4 linked regions of the Homo sapiens genome follow. The gene in region 4 interacts genetically with the main gene of each other region. Each region holds a gene or a part of one and is shown on either strand. Other genes may lie near its edges. The genes, in order: GFI1B, ATG10, MCM3AP and AATF.

Region 1 (7,324 bases), on a different chromosome or scaffold from region 4:
GGATGTCAGGATTCTGCCTAGCCAAATGCAGAGCCTGGGGGTGGGTGAGAGTTCCATTCCTCTTGGGGGCCCAAGCCCCTTGCACACCAGAGAAGAGACCTGGAAGAAACACTTTTGGGTTTCAGTGGGAGGGAGAGTACACAGACTCCAAAAAGATAGCCTCAACTCGGAATCAGTTTCTGATCCCAGTCCTGCCTTTACCTGCTGTGTGACTTTGGGCAAGTAGGCCAACCTCTCCCTCTCCCTCTCTGGTTCCCAAATTAACCTTAGGAAAACACTGAACACCCAAATCCTCCCCTTGGGGATGGACACATGCGTATCACACGTTATAGGCTCTAAGAAGCAGTTGCAATAGACTGAACGTTAACCCAGAGTTCCTCCCAGTTATTTGAGCAATGTGATCTCTACTCCGTCTAAAGCAAACGAACCCCCGGAGGCTTGTGGCGCACGCCTGGGGAGCACCAGAACGGGTCTGAGGCATGTCCAGCCGGCTCTGTGGGCCTCTCTGGAACCACGAACATGAGTCTGAGGACTTGTCACTCACTCCCCTGATGATCCATTGAACAGCTTCTAGTTTGACCCAGGTTTGAGCTGCCCACAATGGATGCGAATTGGGCGTTTGCATGGGACATTTGCCATTTCATGACAGGTTGAGCCTCATAAGTTGGCATGCAATCAAATACACGTTAAACAAGTCAGTTCATGAACCGACAGAAACCATCGGACGATAGTGGCGTTTCTTTGGAAAGAATCCTTCTTTCTCTAGGAAAGAGGGTCTCTCTGTGGGTCCCAGCTCTGGTCTACTCTTGGCATCCCTGTCTCCCTGGGGGTATTCCAGCTTTCTGTGCTCTGCTAGAGGAAGGCACCTGAGCACACCTGGAAAGGGTAAGCCCTAGTATCTATGTTTGTTTGTTTGTTTGTTTCCGAGATGGAGTCTTGCTCTGTTGCCCAGAGCTGGAGTGCAACGACAACATCTCGGCTCACTGCAACTTCCACCTCCCAGGTTCAAGCAGTTCTCCTGCCTCAGCTTCCCAAGTAGCTGGGTTTACAGGCACGCGCCACCATGCCCAGCTAATTTTTGTATGTTTAATAGAGACAGGGTTTCACCATGTTGGCCAGGCTGGTCTCGAACTCCTGACCTCAAGTGATCTGCCCGCCTCAGCCTCCTAAAGTGCTGGGATTACAGGCGTGAGCGCCTGGCCCATATCTGTGTTTTTTTTTTATGTTTGACCTCTCTGGGCCTCAGTTGCCCCATCTGTAAAATGGGAGAATGGCATTCCATTGCAGAAGGTTGTGTGGGTTAGAGACAATGTATGGAAACCCTTGGCTTAGCTCAGTACCTGCAAGTTCATTCAGAGGTGTCCATGGCTGTGGGCCAGGCACAGGATTGGTGTGGGATGGGGGGTGGGGTGCGGCTGGAGCTCAGACAGAAGACCTCCTGAAGTTATCCACACATAACTGCATTCCACATTCAATGGCTCCTAAGCTGTAAGCAAAGAGACTGAGTTGCTCGGTATCAGAGGAGAGAGAAGACCTTCTGGCTGGATGACCCAGGGAGGCTTCATGGAGGAGATGGCTAAGTGGGCCTTGTAGGATGGACAGGACTTCAAAAAGGAATGTTCACAACTCGGCAGCACTTACTACGTGCTGGGCTGGACCTGTATGCCACTTTGTAAGAATGGTCTCAGCGAATCGGTGGAAGGGACTGCTGTGTTTACCATTTTACAGAGGAGGAAGCTGAGCCCCAGAGAGGTTCAGGAACTCACCTGAAGTCACACAGCTAGACAGGTGTGGCACCAGGCTCAGCTTCATCACACCTGCAAAGTCCCTTTTACCCTATAGCGTCACACTCATAGGTTCCAGGGTTAGGATGTGGATATCATCTTTGGGGCCATTATTCAGCCAATCACGGTGATTACGTTCAGGATCTTGAGATGGGATGATTTATACCTGAGCTCAGTGTAATCAGAAGGGTCTTTATAAGAGAGAGGCAAGAAGGTTGAAAGCAGAAGACAGAGATGGAGGCAGAAGCAGAGATCCAAGTTATGTGCTTTGAAGGCAGAGGAAGGGGCCAAGATCAGAGGCACAGACGGCCTTGGGAAGGTGAGAGACAGGAAAACAGACTCTCCTGGGAGCCTGCTGCAGGAATGCAGTCCTGCTAACACCTTGATGTTAGCCCCATGAGACTCATTTTGAGTTTCTGGCCTCTAGAATTTAAGAGAATAAATGTGTGTTGTTTTAAGCCACTAAGTTTGTGGTCATTTGTCACAGCAGCCACAGGAAACGGATACCGCCCCAGCTGCACTAGCCTTGCCCACCCCTGTGGTCTTGTCGCACGGGCCCCTTCTGCTTGCTCCTGGCTCGTCAGCGGGTCTGTGCACGTGGGGGCTGAGTACACTTCTCCACAACTTGCCTATGAGCACCTCCATGGCTTTCTCTGCTCCTCAAGCCTCCCCGCATCACTCCCCAAAGCCTCGTGCAGTACCCTGGACCTCATAGGCACTTAATAAATGCTGGTCACATGGCAGCAAATCTGTATCTTTAATTTTATTGACAGCAGTTGAGAGAACAGGCTTTTGACAGCAATAACTGCCAGTTTCTCCAGCCTCACGGCCTGGTTGTGGAGCTAGAATCCCCAGAGGCCAGCTGAGTGCTGGTCGGAAGTCGGAGTCAGCCAGCACATCTGGCCGAAGCAGAGGGGGTGCCAGGCTTCTGACTGGGGTGGGAGGCAGCTCCGACTCTGCCTGTTATAGCCAGAAAGAGGCCGGCTAAAATCCAAGGTGACCAGGTCCCAGCTCAGTGGGCAGCAGGCAGGTGGAGGTTCTGTCTGTGGGTCCCAGCTCTGGTCTACTCTTGGCATCCCTGTCTCCCTGGGGGTATTCTAGCTTTCTGTGCTCTGCTAGAGGAAGGCACTTGAGCACACCTGGAAACAACTTCTGCTGAGAAAGACCCAGCCAGGCTCCCACACTTGGCAGCAGGAGAAATGTTGATCCAGACAGGGTAAGTGACTTGCCCAAGGTCACACAGCAATTTCATGAGTCTCAAAACAAGCTGGTAGACTCCTGTCCAGTCCCACCTCCAGGAGACTGGAGATTTGGGCATGTGAGGCTGGCCTCCAGGTGACAGGACCGCAGGGCAGGCTGGCCAGGAGCTGGGAGCCGGCGCAGCCTCACTTGAGATTGTGCTGGCTCTCGCGGTGCCGCCGCAGGTCCACCTTGCGCTGGAAGCCTTTGGTGCACAGCTCACAGCTGAAGGGCTTGAAGCCTGTGTGCTTGCGGCTGTGGGTGATGAGGTTGGAGCTCTGGCTGAAGGCCTTTCCGCACACCTGGCACTTGTGCGGCTTCTCACCTGCAGGGAGGGCAGCGCAGCACAGCAAGGGCGGGGTCAGGGCCTCCTCACCAGGCCTGCTGCTCCCCTGCCCTGCCCCCGGGTTCATTTTCCAATACCTTCCTGTGTTTTCTCTCATGGCCAACTCACATTCACTTTAGAAAATAATTAGAAAAGAGAGAGAAGCAAAGATACAACTTGGACCCTCCTCCACCCCTACTGGATTATAGGGTGGTTAGGGGCAGCTGCCGAGTCATCTTGTTTATCAATACATCTCCAAGCCTGGTATACCTGGCACAAAAGAGGCACTCAGCTAATAGCAAGGAGGCAATGAATAAGCAAGTGAATGAATGAGTGAAGGAATGAATAAGCAAATGAATGAGTGAACAAATGAATGAGCAAATGAGTGAGCGAATGTGTGAATAAATGAGCAAATGAGTGAATGAGTGAACAAATGAATCAACAAATGAATGAATGAGTGAACAAATGAATGAGCAAATGAGTGAACAAATGAATGAATGAGTGAACAAATGAATGAGCAAATGAGTGAACAAATGAATGAATGACTGAACAAATGAATGAGCAAATGAATGAGTGAACAAATGAATGAGCAAATGAATGAATGAGTGAACAAATGAATGAGCAAATGAGTGAGCGAATGTGTGAATAAATGAGCAAATGAGTGAACAAATGAATGAGCAAGTGAGTGAGTGAATGAGTGAACAAATGAATGAGCAGTTCGCCTGCTAGTCTCATGTCTGCCATGAGATCAACAGTGTTGAGATTTTGCTGTTTCCTCCCTGTATTTTTTTCCATGCATTAAGTGCACTTAAGTAGCACAGGTGCCCAGCCCTCCATCAGCAGTGGCCTTTGACTTTGTAACTAGACCCCGCCCCCAGCCTCACGCTGGGGGCCTCTGATGCATCTCTCAGGGAAAGGTGGGGGTGCTCTGCCCAGGGGGCACAGGCAGGTGAGACTCACTCACCTGTGTGGATGTAGGTGTGCTTCTTCATGTCGGACTTCTGGTGGAAACGCTTGCCGCAGAACTGGCAGGGGTAGGGCCGCGTGTCTGAGTGGATGAGCAGGTGGGTGGACAGCGTGGACGAGCGCTTGAAGGCCTTGCCGCACATGCGGCACTCGAAGCTGCGCTCCTGCCGGAGGAAATGAGGCCCCGGGGGGTCAGGTGCAGGCTCAGGACTGGACCCGGCCGGGATCCCCTGCGGAACAGGACACTCCATTGGGGCGGCCTGGAGGAGCAGGACCGGGGGACCCCTCATCTCTGCCTCTGAGGTGAAACTGGGGCTTGGAGTCTCATTGGTCTCCTGTGGGATTTTTCCTTGTAATCTTCACGGTATCCCGCTCAAAATAAACCTCAATAAATGTTCGTTGATTGACTGATGGACTGACTGATCTCAGAGGTTCTTTAGGGGTTCACATTTCATGACCATTAACCTAGAGTGAGTTCCTTGAGGCAGGGATGGTTGTGGTCTGCACGGTGGTTTAGTTAAGAGTCTGAAGTTTGTTAAGGGCAGGTGTTGGAGACCCAGACCCAGGGAGGTGGGTACTAGGGGACCCCTCCCAATCTGTGTCACCCCCAGGGGCAGGGGGAGGGACCCAGCCACAGCCCCCAGGCTCCCTGGGGAAGCACAGAGAAGGAGTGGGGCTGGGAGTCCTGCGCTGGGCCAGGTGCCCACCTGGGAGTGGACGTGCGTGTGCTGCTCCAGGCTCACAGCGTGGCCGAAGGTTTTGCCGCAGATGTCACAGGCGAAGGGCCGGGTCCCACTATGGGAGCGTCGCACATGCACTTCGAGCCCGTGAGGGGTGGAGAAGACCTGGGAGCAGGGGCAGCATGTGAGGCCACTGGGGGCTGCGGTGACAGGGACAGGCCTGGGGTCCCATGGTCTCTTCCATGCCCAGCTCTGGCCAAGGCTGGGTACACAGAGTAAGGGGCACTGGATTGCCAGTTCTGCTGCTTGCTTGCTGTGTGTCCCAGGGAGGTCCGTTTGCCTCTCTGTGGCTCAGTCTCCCTTCTACAAAGTTGGATGTGAGAGAGGGGATCTGGAGGCCCCTCCTTGCCTCATCTAGAGGCTGAATAGCCCAGTGGTTAAGAGCTGGGAGTTGGCCGAAGCTGGGTTTGAATGCTGGTTCTGATATCTACTTGCTGTCTGATCCTGGAAAAGTGACTTAACCTCTCTGAACCTTAACCTTTCATCTGACTCTGGCACTCATGCCTGTCAATTGCTTAGCACAGGGCCAGGCACGTGGTCAGAGCTCAATGAATGGTGATGAGGATGAACGTTTTGAATCCTTAATCCCACCAGAGCCCCAACATTCACAGCACAGAGAACGCCCAGAGCTGCCAGTGAGTTGAGAGGGAGTGCGGAGAGGAGGGCCCAGGTGCCCACCACACCCCCCGCTGCCCACCTTGTTGCACTTCACACAGTGGTACGCATCCATGCCTGGGGAGTAGCGGAGGCTGAAGTCCAAGGCGGGCTCAGTGCTGGGCACAAGAGGACTGCCGTACAGGCTGACGGAGTGCTCCAGGAAGGCTGACTGCATGGTGGAGGGGGCCTGCCGGTAGCTGTGGCCATAGGTTGTGGCCAAGGTGTCCCAGGAGAAGCTAGGCTTGTAGAATGGGGGTGAGTCGGACAGTGGAGAGTCCCCATCCTGGGGTCGGGACAGCACAATGGGGCCCTCTGTGGAGATAACGACACAGGCCTGGTTACTCATTTAAACACAGGGGGTTGGGCACAGTGGCGTGGCTCATGCCTGCAATTCCAGCACTTTGGGAGGCTGAGGCAAGTGGGTCACTTGAGGTCGGGAGTTCAAGACCAGGCGGACCAACGTGGTGAAACTCTGTCTCTACCAAAAAATACAAAAATTAGCCAGGCGTGGTGGCTCACGCCTATAATCCCAGCTACTAGGGAGGCTGAGGCAGGAGAATTGCTTGAACCTGGGAGGCAGAGGTTGCAGTGAGTTGAGATCGTGCCACTGCACTCCAGCCTGGGCAACAGAGTGAGACACTGTCTCAAAAAATAAAATGAAATAAAATAAACACAGGGCACCCCCTTCCCACCACCCTCTACCACACACCACTACCTTCATCACCTCATGTGGAGGGTTTCAGGGTGTCAACCCAGATACTTACTGCCAGGAATGTCTGGGTCCTCACTGTGGCTCCTCAGCTTTTCCAGCCCAGAGACACCCCCAGCCTCACTCCACAGTGCCCACCTCACTCCCTGCACGGACCGGCCCAGCTGCTGCTTCTGGCCTCTTCTCCCACCTAGCCCACATCCGGGAATTAGCTCCCTGTCTGAGAGGCCCAAGCAGAAGCCACAGAGCCCGGGCTGCATCCAGTGACTTCGTGGGTCCTTCCTGACTCCAGGGCCCCAAGGGGCCCTGCTGCAAGAGTCCCTTCATCCTTCCTCCCCTTGGCACTCCCTGGGGAATGACAGTGGGTCACAGCGGGGTACCTGGTGCCGGGGCCATCCTGGCCAAGTTCTGGTCCTGCTCCAGCTCCGGCTCTCGTTTGAGGTTGGTCCAGTCCAGGCACTGGTTTGGGAATAGAGTGCTAAGGACAGGGCTGTTGCTTGGAGCCTGGTCTCTGGGCACTGTGGGGAGATAGGACCATCAGCATCAATAGCCACGGTTTCTGGGAAGCCCAGAGGGAGCAAGGAGGGCACGCCCTTCCTAGGAGGAGGAGGCCCAGAGAGACAGCCACGTGCCGCTGCTTCTGGCGGCTCACACTCCCGGGCTCTGCCCAGAGCAGGCGGCGGCAAGAAGAGGCCAGGAGGAGACCCCGGGGAAGACTTTGGACCAGTCTGTTTTTCTGAGCAACCCAACTCCAGCCCTAGACTGGGCCTCCAGTGAGGCCCCACATGCCAGTAACTAAGTACTGGCTCCAACCTGACACTCTCGTCTCCCTAACAGGGCAGAAGGGATGAGGGCATCACTCATTTGTCTACTCCTTTCATCTGCAACCCACAGTTACTGCACT
Region 2 (7,330 bases), on a different chromosome or scaffold from region 4:
TAATTTGTTTTCTATGCACATATAAATATATTTATACACATTTATATATGGGTTTATATAAATGGCATTGTTGTTCTATAACTTACTTTTCCACCTAACATATCAGTGACATCTTTCTTTGTAAGCATATACAGAATTACCTTATTATTTATAATAGCTATGTAGTATTCCATTGTATGGATGATTTTAATTTGCTTAATGGAACCCCTATTGATGATGAATAATCCCTTAGTTATTCTCATGGTTACCCCTGTAACTTTAAGTAATATATTTCTCCTTCCTGATTTCTCATCTTTGGACAATAACTATTGATTCCTGCTATAATAGATGAAGAATTTAGTTTATTACTTCTACCTCCCACATTCCTTCCTATTCTTCTTTCTGATTTTTGATTATATTATTATTTTTACATCATCAAGATTCATAATATTTAGATTCTATTCAGTAACTATAATTTAGTCCTCTGTGCTTTGTTTATAGGTTGATTCGAAATTTGAACCTAATAAAAGTATATAATGAGTCTGTTTAAATAAACAGATTCATTGCAGAAGTAAGTAGTATAATAGGGGGTATAATTCTCTGTACTATAATAGATGATATAATCCTTTGAAGGTGGTATAATCCTCTGTCACACTGCTGATTGATAGAGACTATTTCAAGTCAAAATCCTACAAATTCTTGGCTGGGTGTGGTGGCTTACACCTGTAATCCCAACACTTTGGGAAGTTGAGGCAGGAGGATTGTTTGAGGCCAGGAGTTTGAGACCAGCCTAGGCAACATAGCAAGACCCCATCTCTACCAAAAAAAAAAAAAAAAAAAAAAAAAAAAAATCAGCCAGATGTGGCAGTGTAGTCCTAGTTACTTAAGAGACTGAGGCAGGAGGATGGCCTGGGCCCAGGAATTAGAAGCTGCAATGAGCTGTGATCATGCCACTGCTCTCTAACCTGGGTGACAGAGTAAGACCCTATCTGTTAAAAAAACAATTCTACGAACTCTCTTTTAGTTTCATACCATGACCGCATTAAAAAAGCTCTTTTAAACTGTGCACGGGCAGAAAACCACCAATCAAGGATCAAGTGTCACAGTGTTTTTCTGTGGTTTAATTCCCAGCTAGAGAACAAATGTGTTCAGTAGGGATTCACAAATTAGGTCACAGAAATGAAAGCAATAATTGTGGATTATACCATGGAGATGGTGAATCGAGGGGGTGCTAGCCTCTATTGGGCTGAATGCATCCAGAAGGCTTAATTCTTTCCCAGAAGGACAGGCTCAGCTTCCTTAAGTGGAATTTAGTATCTGAGATGTAACTCCAGCCCTTTCCCCCAAGAAGTTCTGAGGTATGGGTGGACTATTTAATTAATGAGGTGTCATGTTTAATAAATCCCAAAATACTGCAGGACCAAGGGAAAATTAAAGACGTGCAAATTTCTTTATCAAAGATGAAATGTATTATCTCCTTATTTTCTTTCATTCTTGAGTTTTTGTCTAAATGAGCCAGAGGCTAGCAGTACTGATGAATCACTTTGACTAGAGCTGGTCACTCTTTATACAAAGTTACCTTTGTATATAACATAACCAGAGGCATCAGAGTTCACCCTGGCCAGGATCCTCTCATGCATCTGGAAGGTGTAACACTATGAGAAATTGAAGTCAGTGTTACTGGGATTGGGTGGATATTTGGGGTATGGGGAGGAGTCGTATTAACACATTCAGCATTGTGTTCTGGAGGATCTTCTACATCCATAACAGTTCCTTGCCTACATTACTTACCTTTAACTTTAAAAAATGGATGGATATTGGTTTAATGTCCGACCTACCTAGTATAAACTTTTCTACTTAGCAGTAGTTTCTAGTTTCTTCTTTTTACCCCAAGGTTAATCAGTTTTGAACAGCTACTGATAGTATTGGTTTGATCTTCTACAGCAGCAAAGAACAGTCACTTGAGATCTGTGGCCTAGGTTTGACCTATTCCTCAGGGCTCCACTGACCTTGAAGGCCTTGTTTGATCAGTGCTGGCATTGACCTAGAAACTTCAGTTGTCTTCCTCCTTTATGGACTTGTCAAGCCCTTCCTGCAGTTGATCATTCTGGGCAGTTAACTTGAGTTGAAGTCGTATATAAAATGCCTTATTCTGAAGTAGAGCTTAGACCCTTAGATAACCACCCATTTTCTTTTAGATGTGTCTAGAGAAGATCTTGTTAAACTCAGCAACAAAAGCCCTATAATTATTTTGTTAGCTGGATTCCAGCAGGCATAACATAGCTTGCTGGGTGGCATAGCCCTATGACAGCTTGTACTAAAACAGACCCAAACGTGTTCTATCAGGAAATCCTTAGATCTCCATCCAAAATGCAATCGGCACTACACTAGAAAACTTGCTTGTCTCTCTTGGATTCTATAAGACCTATAGGACATTTTCTCCTTAGAAGTTTAAGATTGGAATCTACTCTGGCAATGTGGTGGCCTGGAGGCATATGTGCAAAGGGCAATTAATTATTTGTTTAAAATGAAGTGCCATGTATTTATAGGCACAAAAGAGGTTTTACATTAAAAAGTTAAGTCTCCTTTCTAACCCTTCTACTTTCCTTACTCAAACCTTTAGAGGTTGCCAGTGATACCATGGTCTTGGGTATCTTTCCGGATATATTCAGTGTACACATAGCCTGTACAGTTACATTTAAACATATGGTAGCATGCATATATTCATACTGTTCTGCGCTTTAAAAAATAACTTAATGGTCAGCCTTGGTCATTACTCAATATTTACAGAACTCATTCATTATTTTTGTGGTTACATACTATCCCATTATTTGGACATAAAATAATTTATTTAGCCAATCTTCACTGATGGAAATTTAGGTTGTTTCCAACCTTATACTATTAAAATAATATGTTAATAATCATTTGTATGAATTTTATTTACTACATATGTGACTATATCCATAAGGTAAATTATTAGAAGTAACATTTCTGGATCCAAGGTGTGTGCATTTTAAATTTTGATAGTTTTTGCCAACCTGCTCTTCAGGGATCTTATGCTAATTTTAACTCCCCTGCCCCAGCAATGTATGAGAGTGCCTGCTTGTTTTATCCATGTCTTTGTCTATACATTCCCTTTCATACTTTTTGATCTTTGCCAATCTGATAGGTAAAAAATGTTATCACAGTTTTTAATTTGCATTTTTCTTATGGCTAACATTGAACATATTTTTATCTACATGTATTTCCTCTTTAGTAAACTATCTGTGTATCCTTTGCTCATTTTCTTATTGGGCTATTGGACCCCTTCCTGTTGATTTGGTGGAACTATTTATATTTTGAGGAAATTAAAGCTATTTTATATTGAAAAAATTAGTTCTTTTCTATGATATGAGCTACAAATGCTTTTTCACATTTTGATATGTCTTTTGACTTTATGGTGTTAAGAATTCGTTGCATGCCGTAGAATTTACCAGTCTTTTATGACTTCTGGGTTTTTATCATATTAAAAAATATGTGTTCTCCTATATTTTCATCTAGCATATTTGGGGTTTTTTTCTCATTTAAATATTTCTTATTTTGGTCTTAGGTGAAGGGCATTCTATTTAGATAACTGGAAGAGTTTTGGCTGTGAGGAAGTATTCTCTTTATAATGAAAGTTGTTTGGGTTATAACAGCTGGACATTTCTTATTAATTATTCTTCTACAGTGACAGAGTGAAGCATCATGCTTTGTGGTGAATGGACAGCAAGGAGACCTAATAGCTGAAGTGTAGTTGGACTTGGAGCAATTTTAAGTTACAAGACTACTGGCAGTTTCAGAGGGCCAGGTCAAGACTGGCCAAGTTGCCAGAAATTAGTTTTTCGGGCAGTAGTAAAGACCACTTCAAAGGCAGTCTCAGCATGGTCAAAGCTCCAAGAAGAGAGCATTAACAGAGGTGATTTTAGCATTTGGAGAACTCCAGATGAGCTATGGTGTTCATGAAGATCTTGAGTTGTTTGTGGACTTCTCTCCTGAGGTAGCTGCAGATTACCTGATTGACTCTGTTCATTGAGTTCAAAAGAGGGTCTCCAAGGAATTGAGTGCAGTGGTTCTCAACTCTGGCTGCTGTGCTGGAATCTGCTAGGTAGATTCTGACTTAATTGGTCTGAGGTGAGACACCAGCAACAGTTTGAAAACTCCACAGGTGGTTCTAATGTGCAGCTTGGATTGAGAACCATTGTTAATGTAGTCAGTTTGCTGTCTCTTTGAGTCAGGGATTGCAGTACATGCCTCAGTGCTTCCAAAATGTGCATACATATCACCTGGGGATTATGTTTTAAATGCAGAATCAGGAGGTCTGGGGTGAGGCTTGAGATTCTGCCTGTCTGTCTTAATGAGCTCGCAGCTTATGCTGTGGCTGGTCCCCAGACCACACTTGAGTGGCTTGAGTTTGTTACTTGAAGTGCAAAGCACTGGCCCACACCAGTCCACGAGAGTCAATAAGCCATGGTCCTGCTCTCTTGCAGAATTTGCTTAGTGTACTACAAAGAATACTCAGGTCAAGAGATCCGCTTTCCACTTCCTGCTCTGCCTCCAACTAATTAGTGTAAGACAAGTTTCTTAGAAGTGCTTTAGTCCTTCACCCTCTTATCTCTAAAATGAGAGGCTTGAATTGGATAAACTTGAAGGTTCCCTTTGTTTTTAAATCCTCTCATGCTTGTCCAGGATGTTTTCAGACTCTTTCTGGATCAGGTTGTTATGTGGGATGGAATCTGGATCCTGTAAAGACCTTGTCATCCCTTAGAGGATGGAGGCCTAGGCCCTGAGCTTATGATCTAGTGGGAGAAATAAAACTAACAAATGTTAAAAAATTAAAGAAGAGTTAAATGTTCAAGTGTAAGCTATGATAAGTACAAAAAGAATGCAGGGAAGCTAGAGAGGAGTGTTAATTGGAATGGTCAGGAAAACTTCATTGCCAAGGGGGAATTTGAGTTGACATCGTTTTTTCCTGGGCTGGGTGGACTGCAGGGCTGACAAGAGTGGTGGTTCTCCTGCTTTTGAGTTTGCTTGTCTCTAAAAAAGCATCCTTCAACAGTGAAGCACAAAACATATTTTTCTGCCTTAAATTAAAACAAAGTAGAAGAAACATCTAGTTCTGTGGAAGTCTTTAAAGGGAAATCAAAATCCAAAAAACTCTATATTTAATTTTTCAAGGCTAATCTTGACTGAGAAGATTGATACTGAAAAAAAATCACCACTACCAAATATAGAGCAAAAAACCCAGCGTACTTCCGTATCGATAATAAAAAAATGGTATTAGAAATTACCTAAAATGTAAGTAAATTCCTCAAATTATAAGTATTATTGAAAGTGACATATCTCTTTATCTTAACTAATTGGGAAAGAGACCAGATAATTTATTTAGATTTTATAACATAGGTGCACACGAATTTTTGACTCACCTCTTTTAATGTCAAAGGAGATGTATTTTGCATTGTTATTAGAATTTTACTAAATTTTATGTTCCCTTAAGAGGAGGTTATGTGACCAGGGCTCAGGTATTGAAAAATACAAAATAGAGCAGTTACCCTCATTTAATGAGCTATATTTAGTACACACAGTGCAGCTCCGTGTTCTCTGAATATCCTGAGAGTTTTGGTTTTTATCTCTATGGCTAGATCATTTTGAAATTGCAGACTTTGGGTAATTTTTCTCTCAAACACATGCTATTATAGTTTTACCGTATAGTCATGCTGCATAATGACATTTCGGTCAAGAACAGACCACATGTACAGTGTTCCCATGAGATTATAATACTGTATTTTTGCTGTACATTTTCTTTGTTTAGATATGCTTAGATACACAAATACTTACAAATTTTACACAAATTTTGTTACAATTGCCTGCAATTAATACAGTAACATGCTGTACAGGTTTGCAGCCTAGGAGCAAGCAACTATGTCTATAGCCTACGTATGTAGGAGGCCATACCATTTGGGTTTGTGTAAGCACAGTCTATGATGTTTGTACAATGACAGAATAGCCCAATGACGTGTTTCTCAGAAGGTATTCCTGCCGTTAAGTGATGCATGACTGTATATGGTAAATCTTTTATATAATCAACTATTGATTATCTATCTCAAGATTGACAATACAATAGAAATCTTCTATTTTTAAACTAATAAACACAAATTTATGTTACTTAATAGCAAAATTATTTTGGTTGCAAGTGACAGAAAACCCAACCCATTGGGTGAAGCAAAGAAGGGACTTTTTGGGGCCATGTAATTGAAAAATCTGAGATAGAACTAGTTTCAGATATGGTTGGTGTAAATAATGTAGTCAGAATGTGGTTTCTCTGTATCTCATGGTCTTGCTTTCCTCTGAGTTGCAGAGCCAACTTCGTTTAATTACATGATGGCTGCCAGGTTTTTTTTTTTTTTTTTTTTGTGGTCTGTCTGGCTCAAACCTAGTGGAGAAGAGAACAGCCACCTTTCCCAACCCCCCAAAACCAAATCCTGAATTTCATCCCATTGGCTGTGATGTAGATCATTTGTCCTCCAGAGTCTCTGGGGCCGGCAGTACTGATGGGCAGGATCAGAGATCTGTGTCTATCCCTGGAGCTGTAATCATTTGTCCTCCAGAGTCTCTGGGGCCGGCAGTACTGATGGGCAGGATCAGAGATCTGTGTCTATCCCTGGAGCTGTAATTAGTGTAACAGTAGCCAATGCTCCTCTAAGGAACCATTCCCTTCTCAATCAGGAGAATTGAGGAGCAATTGTTCCTTAGAGGAGCAATGACTACTGCTCCAAAAGAAGGAAGAATGGATGTTTGATGTGAAACAGTGGCAATGACAACAGTCATTACATATATCTTTCTCAGTTTAAGCCAATGTTAAATTTACATTTTTCTAAATACGAAGGTTTCAATGGTAGAAGACCATTACAGGATCTGCTTTGTGGTCAGATAGTGTAGAGCTGGAATTTAAAACAGTAATTCCATCTACAAAATGGATATCCTTAATGAAATAATTAAAAATGACAGTATTGGATATCTGATGGCCTACTTTCCAGGCAGGAATGATATTAAAAATATTTAGCAACCTGTGACAGAGGCATCAACCAATCAGAATGAGTTGGATCTAACCAATCAACAACTAACCAGTGCAGCCCCCTGAGTGAGAGCTGGCTGTTTGTCAGCACAACTTACTGGGAGGCATTCTTAAGGTGCTGTCAAGTGTCTTAAAAAATAGAGTTACTGTATTAGTTTCCTAGGAATGTTATAACAAGGAACCACAAACTGGGTGACTTAAAGTAACAGAAATTTATTCTCTCACAGTTCTGGAGGTTAGAAGTCTGAAATCAAGATG
Region 3 (7,330 bases), on a different chromosome or scaffold from region 4:
TATTCCCTAATGTGGTTTTGAAAGACTGGGAGGCTCAGAAGCAAGTATTATGTCTGTCCGTACATGTCGTTTAAAAAATTTTTTTAAGCCAGTCAAATTGAGTAGTGGGCACCAAGCCCAGCCTGCTTCTTTACTTTTTCTGTTTTAATACTATATATTGGATTTCCTAAATGTAATATGTACACAAAACTTTTAAAAAATGAGGAAATGTAAAAGAAGTATAAAGATGATGATAAGAGCCATCCATGCTCTTGCCATTCTGAGGTAACAGTAACTTCTTGGTGCAAATTCTTCCCTTTTCCTGGGATTACAAAGTCACATTTCATCTACTGGAAATTAGTTTACTGCTGCTGTTACCTTCATTTTCATTTAAGAAAGTAACACTTCCGTGTACTTAAAAAGAAGTCAAATAATGCCACCCACGTGATTTAAAATGAGACATAGTAGCTCCTCCTTCCTCTCTTAACTCCTTTCTTCAGGGCTGCATTTTTCTCCTGTTTCCAGATCACACACTTACACAGCCATTTCTCAGTTTATCCATTTAAATGTTCTCTGCTGACTTCCCATTAATATAAATGTATTAGTTACCTTATTCCTAAATAACTAATTACTCCTAACATAGCAGCTTAAAATAATGTCTGTTATCATGGTATCTGTGGGTCAGGAATCCAGGTGTAGCTTAGCTTGGGTCTTCTGGCTCAAGGTTTCTCATGGGTGGAAATGAAAATGTTGGCTAGGATTGTGGCCTCATCTGAAAGCTTGACTGAAGGGTATCTACTTCCCAGCTCACTCTAGTGAGCTTGTGTCAGGATTCACTTCCTTGCAGGCTGTGGCCAAAGACTTCCTCAGTTCCTGCCACATGGGCCTCTCCCCAGCTGACAGCATGGCAGCTGGCTTTCATCAGAGTGAGCAAGAGGTGAGCCTAGATGGAAGTCTGAGTGTGTTTATAACCTAAACTTAGAAGTGACATCCTGTTGCTTTTGTTGGCTTCTGTCTGTCAGAAGTGAGTGGCTAGGCCCAGCTCACGGGGCAGGAGATCACACGTGGGCATGAACACTAGGTGGAATCAGGGGGGTCCTCTTGGCCACTGCATACCATACTAGGTACAGCGTGGCCTCTTGTGCCATGGTCCTTGCTCGGCCTTCCACGTCTTCCCGGGATAGCTACACTAGCACTTTGTATTACTTCAGTGAGTGGGGTCATATTTTGATGGCTCTGTGACTGCTATTCACCTCAGAACCAGTAGTGTTCTATAACCACAATTATTTTTTTCCTGCAAGAAATAGAGTTGCCTTATTGTCTCACTTAATGTAGTTCTCTTTATCTCTTTAATTTTACTGGGGGGCCGTATATATCTCGGTAGAGTTTTCCAAATGTTCTGTCACTTCACTTGATCCATCCATGTTCCCTCTGTCCTGGAACTCTCATCTGTGGGCTGGTCTCCATCCAGGCAACATGTGCCTTAGTGCCATCATTGTGAGCATATGTGTCCCTGCTCCTCCACTTGGAAGCTCTGTGACCTTGGGCAAGTTCCCTAGCGTCTCTGCCACCTGTGTATGGGTACTGTTACTTATTATCCCTATTTTACTCAGAGACGGTAAAATAAACTGCCCAAGCCTCTGCAGGTGCTGTCTGGTGGAGATGCTCATCTGGCTCTTGAGGATAAAATGAGTGCAAACACAGACTGCACAGGACAGTGCCTGGCACAGGCCAGGTGCTTGCTCAGTGTTGCCATTAGCAGCAGCTGCAGTATTTTTTCTTGGTTCAGCCCCTTGTTGGATGTTATATGTCATGCGAGGGGAATTTTCTGAGTCTTTTCCATTATGAAAATGATTTTATTAACAAAATACCTTAAGCTGGGGGAAAGAAAAAGAAAATGCATTTATTTCATTCTGACATTTGCTTCATAGTTTAGCTACGTTTGTAAAATTATAGGTAGAAAATTATTTTCCTGGCCGCGCATAGTGGCTTATGCCTGTAATCCCAGCACTTTGGGAGGCCGAAGTGAGCGGATTGTTTTGAGTGCAGGAGTTCGAGACCAGCCTGGGCAACGCGGTGAAACCCTGTCTCTATAAAAAATACAAAAATTAGCTGGGCATGGTGGTGTGTGCCTGTAGTTCTAGTAGCTTGGGAAGCTGAGGTGGGAAGATTGCTTGAACCTGGGAGTTCGAGGCTGCAGTGAGCCGTGATCGCACCACTGCACTCCGGTGTTGACAGAGGAAGACCCCGTCTCAAAAGAAAGAAAATTATTTGCCTTCCAGTTTTGCTCCACTGTCACCTAGCATCCATTGTTGCTGTACCATTCCTGTTCCTTTCTGTGTGGCCTGGTTTTCTCTGTGGAAGCCTTTTCTCTCTGTTCATGGCGTCCTAAAAATTCACTTTGTTACACTGGCACTGGACTAGCTTCACTCACTGTGCAGGGCTTAGCAGGTCCTTTCAGGCTAGAGACTCCTATTTCACTTCTGGGACATTTTCATGTCTTTATGACACTCTGTCTTTTTTCTGTTCTCTCTTGAACTTCTATTAGATAGATGTTAGGCCTCATCAATTGATCCTCTGAGTTTCTTATCCTATTTTCTATCCTATTTTCAATCTCATCTCTTCCTACTGTGTTCTGAAAGAGTTCCTTGACTTTATTTTCCAATTGTCCTACTGAATTTTTTATTCCATATATATTACTTATTTCCTCTTTCTTTTTATCATGACTTTTTCATAGCATCTTATTTTTTGGATGCATCATCTTATCTTTCCAAGGAAATTAGGGTTTTTGGGGTCTAAGTTTTCTTTGGTTCACGTATTATCTGGTTCCTCTTTTTTTTTTTTTTCCTCTCTGTTACTCCAGTTTATCTCTTTTATGTTGGAGGCCCTCCTCAGATGCCTTACCCAAGGCTATCTGTCTATATCTGAGTGAGGCCCTAAAAGGCTAGCCAAGAAGTTCTGTGTTTGGGGTGGGGTGGATGGTAGCTAAATGGCAAGCCAGGCTTTTTGGAGGGACTCCCAAATGTCTGGATCTGGATGGCTGTTCCCTAGACTGTTCAGTTTTTCTGGAAAGGACTTGTGCCATCTGCTTTCTGGGGAGCTGCTGGTATTCTCAGGGTAGGGTTGGGAGTGGTTTGGCGCTGAGTCCCTTCCACTGTGCCTGACCATGGCCCTGCATCTGGATCCTCTCAGGACTCCTGTTCAGGGGCCCAGGGGGACTGGTTTTGCATAGAGGTTGCCTGCAGTGGTGGGTGCCGCCAATAGGGTCAGGCTCTGAACTTCACCTTTGGCTCCTGGTGTCTGCAGCGCCTGGGTATACAGGGCTTTTGCAGGCTCAGTCAACCTGACTCCTTACACACCCACATCTGCAGCCTTTAGGTATGGCATCCTCTGCTTCCCTAACCCAGGGATTGGTCACACCTATTTGCTGCTTTCTAGAAATGTATCAGAATCCCTCATCTGCTGCTGGCTTGCCTTCCCTCTTTCTATTATTATGGGCTTATATTTTTGTTTATTTTTGTAGAGATGGGGTCTTGCTATGTTGCCCAGGCTGGTCTTGAATTCCTGGCTCCTGGCCTCAAACAGTTCTCCTGCCTTGGCCTCCCCAAGTGCTGGGATTACAGTCATGAGCCACTGTGCCTAGCTTTAACTTTTTTATACCTGTTTAAGGTTAATTAAAGTTATAGTAATATGGTCAAACACAATTCTAGCTGGAGGCTAAATTACCTGTTGACCTGGCTGTTTCTTGCACTAATTCTGTTGCATTTATTCTCATTTTTGTTTCTATAAATTTAAAATATGAACATGGGTGGGCGCGGTGGCTCACACCTGTAATCCCAGCACTTTGGGAGGCCGAGGCAGGCTGATCACTTGAGGTCAGGAGTTCGAGACCAGCCTGGCCAACATGGTGAAACCCTGTCTCCATTAAAAATACAAAAATTAGCTGGGTGTGGTGGTGGGCACCTGTAATCCCAGCTACTATCCAGGAGGCAGAAATTGCAGGGAGCTGAGATCGTGCCACTGCAATCCAGCCTGGGCGACAGAGTGAGACTCCATCTCAAAAAATAAATAAATAAAAATAAAATAAAATATGAACATGCCTTATATCTGAAGGGCAGATATAGAAATTATTTTTCTAGGGTGATTGTCCTCTGAATATATGAAGAAACAATGTTATTTGACGTTTTCTTTAAAAAGGAAGTCTGAAGCTAGGCATGGTGGCTCCTCGAACCTGTAATCTCAGCTACTCAGGAGGCTGAACCAGGAGGACTGCTCGAGCCCAGCAATTCAAGACCAGCCTGGGCAACATAATAAGACCCCCTTCTCAAAAAAAAAAAAAGGTTGAGGGGAGTCTTTGCTAACAATTGGATTTAGGGAAAGAGGGGCCAGGAATTAAAATAACTACAGGAAGTAAGATAACTACAGGGTATGCCCAGCTGTGCCCTTGGAGGCCTGTCTGGAGTACAGTCAGTATTTAGTGCACGGAGAGCTTTGGCTGCACTTGCTCTGGGGCAGATCAGTCACTGCTGATGCGTCCCATGGTGCATCTCTCCTGATGATCTTGATGCTGTTGCAGGTGGCCCATGGCGCCCTCAGTGATGGTGCCATTGATGCTGTGGAGACACAGAAGGACCTCCTGGGAGCCAGTGGGCTCATGCTGCTGCTTCCCCCCAAAATGAAGAGTGAGGACATGGCAGAGGAGGACGTGTACTGGCTGTCGGCCTTGCTGCAGCTCAAGCAGCTCCTGCAGGCTAAGCCCTTCCAGCCTGCGCTTCCTCTGGTGGTTCTTGTGCCTAGCCCAGGAGGGGACGCCGTTGAGAAGGAAGTAGAAGATGGTTTGTGAAGGAAGTCTCGTTTATGAAGCAGCATTGTTTAATAAATGGGTGGAGGCCCTGGGTCTGAGGATGGTCCAGTAGTGTTGGGGTCAGGAATCACTGAGACAGCAACCCCTGTGGTGACTGTCCACTGCAGGACTGGGTGGGGTCAGCACAGTGAGATATGTTAGCAGGTGTGCTGACAGCAGAATGCAAGTGACCTTCATCTATGTCTGTCTTAAAGGTCTGATGCTACAGGACTTGGTTTCAGCTAAGCTGATTTCAGATTACACTGTTACCGAGATCCCTGATACCATTAATGATCTACAAGGTTCAACTAAGGTAAGGTTTCATCATTTTTAATGGTCTGTCAAGATATTTTGTTTTTTCCCCTTTTGCTGTATCTTGAATTGAGTGTATATTAGCGTTTGCATTGTCTTTTTCTTAAGAGACAGGGTTTTATTGTCACCCAGTATAGTGGCATGATGATAGCTCCCTGCAACCTCAAACTACAGGGCTCATGCAATCTTCCCACTTCAGTCTCCCAAGTATATGGGACTACTGTGGTGTGCCACTGCGCCTGGCAGCAGTTGTATGTTTTATACAGATAACTTTCTAAAAACATAAGCAGAAATCAAAATAAAAGATAAAATTTGCCCACAGTCCTGCTATCTGCAAATTAAATTGTTCATGTAAAATTTTTTAGTGTTTTTGTTTCTATGAATTTAAAATATGAACATGTCTTATATCTGAAGGTCAGATACAGAAGTTATTTTTCTAGGGTAATTGTCCTCTGAATATATGAAGAAATAATGTTATTTGATGTTTCCTTTAAAAAGGAAGTCTGAAGCTGGGCGTGGTGGCTCCTCGCACCTGTAGTCTCTGCTACTCGGAGGCTGAAGCAGGAGGACTGCTTGAGCTCAGGAGTTTGAGACCAGCCTGGCCAACATAGCAAGACCCCCTTCTCAAAAACAAAAAAAATAGGGCAGGGGGAGTCTTTGCTAACAATTTAGAGAAAGAGGTGCCAGGAATTAAAATAACTATAGGAAGTAAGATAACCATAGGGTGTGAAGGCACCTTGGCACATAGTGAAGCTGTTAGTCCTTCCAAAAAGGAGAAGACTCCATTTCTGTGCATGGTGAAGGGGATGTTCAGGGCTGGTTTCCTGAGGGCCTGGGCCTTTCCATGGGGCAACCATGCAGGTCACACTCCTCCTCAGGCCAGGTGGGATCTGGGGGCTCTCTTTAGTGCCCCTACTGGACATGTCTCCAGAGCCCTAGAAGGCTAAACTCAACTGCATAGGACACTTCTGTTCCCCTTCCTACCACAGTTGAGAGCCCAGTACTCTGGTATTACCTGCTGTGGGCAACCTTGGGGGATCAAGCCCTTTCAGAAAGCTGTTTTTGAAAAACAGTGTGAATTGTTCAACCAAGTCTCTTCTTTCTTCTCAGGTTTTGCAAGCAGTGCAGTGGCTGGTTTCCCACTGCCCCCATTCCCTTGACCTCTGCTGCCAGACTCTCATTCAGTACGTCGAAGACGGGATTGGCCATGAGTTTAGTGGCCGCTTTTTCCATGACAGAAGAGAGAGGCGTCTGGGCGGTCTTGCTTCTCAGGAGCCTGGCGCCATCATTGAGCTGTTTAACAGTGTGCTGCAGTTCCTGGCTTCTGTGGTGTCCTCTGAACAGCTGTGTGACCTGTCCTGGCCTGTCACTGAGTTTGCTGAGGCAGGGGGCAGCCGGCTGCTTCCTCACCTGCACTGGAATGCCCCAGAGCACCTGGCCTGGCTGAAGCAGGCTGTGCTCGGGTTCCAGCTTCCGCAGATGGACCTTCCACCCCTGGGGGGTACGTGCTTGACCTGGGGAGGTCTGGTGGGTGGCTGCAGCCAAGTCTCAGGCTTCCTTCTCACTGTAGTAACCGTCTGGCAGGTGTTGGGCACCAGTGTGAGGGCTGCACGTCCACCTCCGTGTGTCTCCATGCTGTGCTCGCCTGCACCTTCCTTTGGTCCTTTGGGTTCATGAGCCAGAACAAGCTGGGTTTTGTGGAGTGGGGGCTGTTAGCCTTTCCTGACCAGCAAGGCAGTCCATGGGAGTTCACTCAGCTTCAGGAGAAAAGTGACAAGTGGTACTGGGAGGAACACCAACCCTGATCCTGTCCTGCCTGCCCACAGGGTCCCTGTTTTCAGAACAGACAAGGGGCAAAGAGCATGGGGACCATGTAGCCCTGTCCCCAAGCCGCAGCCATGGCACTCAGTGCTGATTTAACATTCTTTCTTTGTCAAAGAGGCCTTCTTCTATGGCTCTGGCTGTGCCCCTGTTCCTGGCTGAGGTCTTTGGGCTGTTTTGACACAGATCCGACAGGCCATCTGGCTGGCTCAAGCCCAGTATGGCATGGGGCTGCTCCTTCCTATGCACTCAGAAGGGAATGAGCTGCTTATCTGGCAGAAGTTGTGGCATTAGCACAGACACTCCCCTTTGGGCCTCAGGCGCCCTTCTAAATTGTGGTGTGTGGTCTGTAGTAGGTCTAACTCATGCTCATTA
Region 4 (7,330 bases):
GTCTCTCACATACACACAAAAGAAAACCCTTTTAAATTTATTTTTTTAAACTGCTCCTTGCAGAGCAGGGGTACCCCCACAGGCAGAGTGTGCCCAGAGTAGCTGAAACCTTTTTTTAAAAAAATTAAAAGAAAGAAGCATCCTATCCCAGCATCATTCCTTTTAAGTGTTTTTTGTTTGTTTGTTTGTTTTTTTCCAGAAGGAGTCTCACTCTGTCACCCAGGCTGGAGTGCAGTGGCGTGATCTTGGCTCACGGCAACCTCCACCTCCCGGGTTGAAGCGATTCTCCTGCCTTAGCCTCCCAAGTAGCTGGGATTACAGGCACATGCCACTACACCCGGCTGATTTTTGTATTTTTAGTGGAGACTGGGTTTCACCATGTTGGCCAGGCTGGTCTCAACCTCAAGTGATCCACCCACCTCGGCCTCCCAAAGTGCTGGGATTACAGGCATGAGCAGAAGCGCCTGGTCTTAAGTGTTTTTAAAATTAATAGTTTAAATTGACAAACATAATTGTATCCACCTATAAGGTATAATGTGATGTCTTGATAGTGTATATACAACGTAGAACGATTAAATCAAGCCTGTCCATGTATCCATCACCTCACTTATCATTTTTTATGGTGAAACATTTGAAATTTACTGAGTTACTCTGAAAAATACATTATTGACTATAGTCACCCTGCTGTATAACAGATCTCAAAACTTCCTCCTCTGGCTGGGAACGGTGGGTCAAGCCTGTAATCCCAGCACTTTGGGAGACCGAGGTGGGCGGATCACTTGAGGTCAGGAGTTCGAAGCTAGCCTGGGCAATATGGTGAAACCCCATCTCTACTAAAAAAAAAAAAAAAAATCAGCTGGGCGTGTTGGCAGGGGCCTGTAATCCCAGCTACTTGGGAGGCTGAGTCAGAAGAACTGCTTGAATCTGGGAGGCGGAGGTTGCAGTGAGCCAAGATTGTGCCACTGCACTCCATCTCTAAATAAATAAATAAATAAATAAATACATACATAAACAAATACTTCCTCTGACGTGAAACTGTAGTCTTTGACCAACATGTCGCATTCCCTGCTCCCCCACCCCCCTCAGCCTCCGGTAACCACCATTCTACTCTTTAGTTCCATGAGTTGGCCTTTTGTAGATTCCACGTATAATTGAGATCAGGGGGTCTCTGTCCTTCTGTGCTTGAGTCATTTCACTCGGCATAATGTCTTCCAGTTCAACCACATTGTCGCGAGTGTCAGAATTTCCTTCTTTCTAAGGCTGAATACCCCTTATCCATGTAAGAAACCCAAAAGCAAGAAAACAAATAACCCATTTCAAAAATGGGCAAAGAATCTGAACAGATATTTCTCAAAAGAAGACATACAAATGGCCAACAGGCTTATTAAAAAATTATCAGCCCCACTAATCATTAGGGAAATGCACAGAAAAACCACAACGAGGCCGGGCGTGGTGGCTCATGCCTGTATTCCCAGCATTTTGGGAGTACGAGGTGGGCAGATCACAAGGTCAGCAGTTCAAGACCAGCCTGGCCAATATGGTGAAACCCCGTCTCTACTAAAAATACAAAAATTAGCTGGGCATGGTGGCGAGCACCTGTAATCCCAGCTACTCAGGAGGCTGAGGCAGGAGAATTGCTTGAACCTGGGAGGTGGAGGTTGCAGTGAGCCGAGATTGTGCCGCTACACTGCAGCTCGGGAGACAGAGCAAGACTCAGTCTCAAAAAAAAAAAAAAAAAAAAAAAAAGATAAAAGAAAAAAAAAACCACAATGAGACATCACCTCAGACCTGTTATAATGGCTACTATCAAAAAGATGAACCCCTAAAATGTATACAACTATTATATGGCAATAAAAACTTTTTTTAAAAAAGATGAAAGTTAACAAGTGTTGGTAAAGACGCGGAAAAGGGAGCTCTGGCACGCTGCCGGGGTGAACGTGGACTGGTACAGCCATTATGGAAAACTGTAAGGAGTTACTAAAAAAACTAAAAATTCAACTATCCTACGATCAAGCAATCCCATTTCTGGGTATATATACAGATCAACGGACATTACTGTGTTGAAGGGACACCTGCACTCCCACGTTCATTTCACCCACAACAGCCACGCTATGCAAACAATCTACATGTCCGCCAGGGTGAGTGGGTCAAGGAAACGTCAAGTCTGACATTGTATGAGGAGGCCACTGGACTAGAAAAAAAAAAGCTCAGTAAATGTGTCATCCACTAGAACCAAACCAGACTGACTCTCAGCCTCTTAAGAAATCACAAGCGGTGGTGGCGGTAACAATGCTCTTTATTTGTGGCGTTTAAAGGCGGGGTTGGGCGGGACAGCGCCCTTGCGTGTATTAGGCACAGGTTCGGAACGCAGCATCTTTCCAGGGGCTTCCCTACTAGCTCAGCCCCATAAAGTCACTGGTTTCCTCCATCTGGACCAGCAGCCGCACCAGCCAAGGCGCCCACTGGGTGTCGGAGGTGGGCGATGTCAATCCCCGTGGCCTTCGTCGGGAGGGTGGAGCTGGCCAAAAAGAGAGCGGTACAGTTCTGTCCTAAAAGACAAACACAGCAAACTGGTTAACACACTGGTTCACTATTCAAGGTTAAAAAGGAACGCAGAAGCTGGAAAATACCCCATTCTGTTTCTTCTGTTGAAAACACAGCCATGTAATTAAAAATGCACCCCACAGCTCTTACTCACAAATACAACAGAAGGAAGAAACCCAATCAAACAGTAAAATATGTAAATGGTCCAGTGCGGCTGGACACCCGTCTCCAGGGAATGAGTGTTCTGTAAGTTTGCCCTTTGCAGACAGGCTCTTCAAGTAAGAAAACAAGATTGAATATTTTAATAGGATGTAGGAGACCGCCATCCGATGAGGAGGATTCAATCAGACATGGGATGTAGGGGGATATAATTTAGTTTTCATACATTTTCTTGGACTTGGCAGTACTTGAAAAACAATGAAAATGAGCCAGCAACACGATTCCAATTACTATCATCTGTGCAGTTGTTCAGGAAGAGAACCAAGCTTCTTCCACACTCCCCAGCTGCCCTGTCTCTATTCTCAGTCTAATAAATAATATGATTGGCTAATTTATTTCTAAAGTTGGGTTTTGACATTAAAACAATAACATGCCAGGGTCTTGGGCCCCTAAAAAGAAAAGTAAATGACCACTTTCAAACTCTTTTAAATGCAACATACACACAAACATCGGCCAAAGCCATGTGTCAAGGCCTGGAAAACCTAAAAGGGGTGTGGGTGGGGCAGGGATCTTTCCTATCGTTGAGACAGAAGCTCCAGAACACTTTCCCCTGTGGATACAGAGCAGATCCTCCCTGCAGAGACATGAGGGACCCATGAGGTTCCAAGCAGGCAAGACCCGTGTGAGGACGTCCCTGTCATCAGGGAGGTGGGCGTGTAGCACGTGGCCGCAGAGGCAGCCATCCATGTCCACGCCCTGCAGAAGGCCCAGCCGGTAGCCCTCACAGAGACAGGGCAGGCGCACACAGGGCTGAGGTCATGGGCCAGGAGCCCCAGAAGAAATCTACACCTGCTCGGATATTCTCAAGATGGAACTCAAATTCCAGCCTGCCGTCTTGTTTTAAAAGTGCTCTCATCATCTGAGGGTCAGCATCGGCACATCAGACTTTAAAAGCAAAACCAAAAAACCCCACCTTTCAAACAGCAAGGCTTCAACACAAAAAACTACTGGTCTTTTTTTGAAGTCACCCTACTATAGTTATGGATAGGAATAAAGGTACTACAATTAGGAAATCCAACAAAAGGAATAGAGTATCAAAGCTTTAAAAAAGTCAAAAGAAAAACATCTTAAGGAAGAACTACAGAAGCCACAAATGTAAGCTAGCCTTATCATGTTGGGGACCGCGGGAGGGACAGGCAGTGAAAGTGCAGGCCAGAAAACAACAGGCCTCCAATTTTATTACAGGAATTTTATCCCAAGAATGTGCTGGTGCCTTCACCCTGAACTACCCAGCAGACCCCTAGGCCACAGACAAAGGACACAGCTTCCCCCTTGGCTCCACCCATCTCTTCTGCTCTTCTGTTACACACATCCATGTGACTAGCCTCAATCAGCCCAGACGAAGCCTGCCAAGGTGGACGGCAGCCCCAGACCAAATGCAAACCCACGGCTTCCAAATCAGCAGCTCCGTCACACGGATACTTCGGTGCCCAGGGCAGGCTCCACTTCATCACACCATGGCCTGCCTATTTGCCAGTAAAGACAAGTCTCTCTAGCTGTTTCCACACAAAAAATTAAATGGCGTGAAAGGGAGAGTTGCCATAACAAAAGGACAGTGTGACTTTAGGACAACAACGTCTGATGAGAAAGAAATGCAGAGGCGCGAGGCTAGCCCTTCACATCATACCCTTTCCAGCCTCGCCGCGCTTGCCTGCACCAGACCCCATCATTACCACTGAGCAAATGCTTCCACTCTGCGCGCAATATCAGTGCAACGCCTGGGCCGAAGGCAGCAGTTACTGTCCGCAGCAGGGTTCACGTGTCAGGAGCAGAGAGTGAAATGCTGAAACCCATGTTTTCATAGAACATCATTTCACACTCAGGTGGGCAAAGCTGACAAACATATGCAGCTGTTCATGGCAAAGCAACCTGGGAAGCTGAGTGGTCTGGGTTCTTAAAATATTTTCAGAGAGAGAGAATATCAATAGGGGATTATTTCAATCTAAAAGTCCCCAAGCAATTTCAACTTTTACATCTTCCTCACCCACTATCACCAGCTGGTGACCGTTTTTACCTTCAAAGCATCTCAAACTTCACAGCTCCTCCAGGCTTCCACTAGGTCAGATCTCACCGTTTCTCATGAAGCACACAGCAACAACCTCCTGGCTGACTCTTCCACTCCCTTCTCTGAGACAGACAAAGCAGACCCTCCCTGGGGCCCAGGAGCAGCATGGGGATGAAGATCCCCGCCCCACACGCCCCCCACCAGCCACCCCCACTGTAGATTCCAGCGGTTCAGCTTGGCCTCAGCCCTTCCTCTTTCCAGGTCCTGGCTTTGGCTCCTGCCCTGAGCAGCTGGGTGGTACAGGGAGGCACAGCCCTTCCTCCCTCTTTACTAGGTTGGAGAAGGTAGGGTTGCACATTTTTATAACGTTTTTCACAGTAAGTTTAAATAGTTACAAAATATATAATGACCAGGATGTTGTGAAAATTAACTTTTGTAATGCCTGCAATGGAACCTACATGCCATAATGATTTGATACTCATCGTTCATTCAAGTAACACATAAACTATTTTTTTTTGAGATGGAGTCTCGCTCTGTCGCCAGGCTGGAGTGCAGTGGCGCAATCTCGGCTCACTGCAACCTCCGCCTCCCGGGTTCAATCGATTCTCCTGCCTCAGCCTTCCAAGTAATTGGGACTGCAGGTGCGCACCACCACGCCCGGCTAATTTTTTATTTTTAGTAGAGACGGGGTTTTACCATGTTGGCCAGGATGGTCTCCATCTCTTGACCTCATGATCTGCCCGTCTTGGCCTCCCAAAGTGCTGGGATTACAGGCGTGGGCCACACATAAACTTTTTAACTTGGACATTTTATAGCACCTTTTTCTTTTTAAATTTTATTTCCACCTGACTTTTCCCTACAGAGTTTTGTCCTAATATAATGGTTTCATGCTTGAATGTCTTTTATCAATCACCCTTATCATACTTCTTGGCCACATTAGTCTGTAAATAAAAGCACTTTTGAAATTTTTAAAATTCAAAAAATTGAAATGAAAATATTTTAATTGTTTGACATTATAAGGCTCTAAGTAGTTTAAAAATGTTCCTCTGGATTATTATTAGGATATAATCAATATATAATAATATGATATAATATATCCTAATTTTAGTGAAAATTTAGTATTCATACATGTGTAAAATGTTATTAGAAATGCATCCCTTAATGATATGGATGAGGCTTTTCCCTCCATTTGTTCATGGATCCATGGAGGAATATTATTTATTGCCAGAATGAAGGAGGGTTCAGCATCAATTCTACTCCTATTTTTTTGTTTTTTGTAGACATAAGCACTGAGAAATGTTGTCATATAAACAAGCAGATAGGAATGACAGAGTTCTGGCATAGCAATGCCACTTGATTCTTTTTGCTCTTTCTGAATTATACAGCACACACAAAAAATCGCACAGTGACTCGTCCCCAAACATTAGTCCTAACGGTCAACCAACTGCCAACTCAATTCAACTCGTGTTCTCCAGCGATTCTGCTGGAAGTGAAGACCCAGAAACCACCCGGCCTGCACAGGGCTTGTCCTCTAGTCCTTAGGCGTTTGCTTTCTCAATCTCTGTACCCATATTTCCAGCTGTCCTTGGGTTTGAGGCCCTGGAGGTTTTCCTGTGGCAGCCCGAGGTCCATGTCACTTTAAGGAGGGGCTCGAGGGAGGCTTTTCAAGGCCAGAGAAGGACGAGGGTAAAAGGACAACCTAGCCCTCCAGCACAGGCCTGCTCTGGGGCAGACAGCTTTAGGAAAGAGCGTACGTCTGAAGACTGACTCCTTGACTATCTGTGTCTACCTTCCCCTTGGAAAGTCTCTGCATACCCCAGTGTGAAGACTGAGCCACAGGGTGCACTGAGCTCTTCCTCCCTCAAACCTAGGCAGGTGTCTAGGTGCTTAGGGAAAGGCAAAGACATCTGAAAAGAAACAAAACATGTCCACAGCCCTTACCCCATCCCAAGAAAAACTGCAAGTAAAGACGAGGCTACAAAAAGGTGCCACTGGACAGAGGGCCAGACCGCCTTCCACTGCATAAACATTTCCCCCCGGCTGCATCTTCCTAACTGGGATTTAGCCATGTGGAGAAGCTAAACTATCAATCCTCCAGGTTAACCTTGTTCCATCAGATTCTCCAGGGTAAGTGTGTAGTTTCATACCTGAGGTCCCCTTAAGGCTATGCATAATCAACTTTTTAAAAAAACACATAATTCCTGCTCCCCATCACATTAAGAATCAAGATGCAAATCACTGATCTGTAATACCCCCACCCCCCAGCACACACACACTCATGGTCAGTGGGAGTGTCCACTGTAGACAATGCGTTCATGCTGGTATCATGCAGGGGAGCAGCCTGCGGAGTAATTAACAGGACTTGGACCTGAGGTAGAAGGTCGATAGCAGGGGCTCTTCCTTGAATTAAAATTTAACTTACCCTTTATTGCAAACTACAAAAGCAAGTAATGAGCACTAACATTTTTATTTCTTTTAAACTGTCATTAAGCTGTAGAGGGGATAATTACCTATCTCTAGTGCAGTAAGGTTTTATAACCCTTAGTGAGGCATTTTCTAATT

The links.
Region 1: changes in AATF (region 4) and GFI1B together harm fitness less than expected from each alone (positive genetic interaction), as found in Homo sapiens cells (one large-scale study listed by BioGRID).
Region 2: of AATF (region 4) and ATG10, changing one suppresses a phenotype caused by changing the other (phenotypic suppression), as found in Homo sapiens cells (one large-scale study listed by BioGRID).
Region 3: changes in AATF (region 4) and MCM3AP together harm fitness more than expected from each alone (negative genetic interaction), as found in Homo sapiens cells (one large-scale study listed by BioGRID).

Annotation. Positions count from the first base shown.
Region 1 is NC_000009.12:132,986,896-132,994,219, reverse strand, and holds the end of GFI1B (zinc finger protein Gfi-1b), read right to left. Parts: intron 6,939-7,324; coding exon 6,801-6,938; intron 6,024-6,800; coding exon 5,752-6,023; intron 5,160-5,751; coding exon 5,022-5,159; intron 4,545-5,021; coding exon of another isoform or gene 4,479-4,544; coding exon 4,313-4,478; intron 3,483-4,312; coding exon of another isoform or gene 3,463-3,482; exon of another isoform or gene 3,381-3,462; intron 3,349-3,380; coding exon 3,170-3,348; 3' UTR 2,533-3,169; downstream 1-2,532. UniProt on the Homo sapiens protein: Essential proto-oncogenic transcriptional regulator necessary for development and differentiation of erythroid and megakaryocytic lineages.
Region 2 is NC_000005.10:82,050,040-82,057,369, forward strand, and holds part of ATG10 (ubiquitin-like-conjugating enzyme ATG10), read left to right. Parts: intron 1-5,192; exon of another isoform or gene 5,193-5,295; intron 5,296-7,330. UniProt on the Homo sapiens protein: E2-like enzyme involved in autophagy. Acts as an E2-like enzyme that catalyzes the conjugation of ATG12 to ATG5. ATG12 conjugation to ATG5 is required for autophagy. Likely serves as an ATG5-recognition molecule. Not involved in ATG12 conjugation to ATG3.
Region 3 is NC_000021.9:46,244,112-46,251,441, reverse strand, and holds part of MCM3AP (germinal-center associated nuclear protein), read left to right. Parts: exon of another isoform or gene 1-1,856; intron 1,857-4,555; coding exon 4,556-4,814; intron 4,815-5,037; coding exon 5,038-5,135; intron 5,136-6,244; coding exon 6,245-6,635; intron 6,636-7,330.
Region 4 is NC_000017.11:37,051,820-37,059,149, reverse strand, and holds the end of AATF (protein AATF), read right to left. Parts: intron 6,896-7,330; exon of another isoform or gene 5,988-6,895; intron 2,550-5,987; coding exon 2,486-2,549; 3' UTR 2,279-2,485; downstream 1-2,278. UniProt on the Homo sapiens protein: Part of the small subunit (SSU) processome, first precursor of the small eukaryotic ribosomal subunit.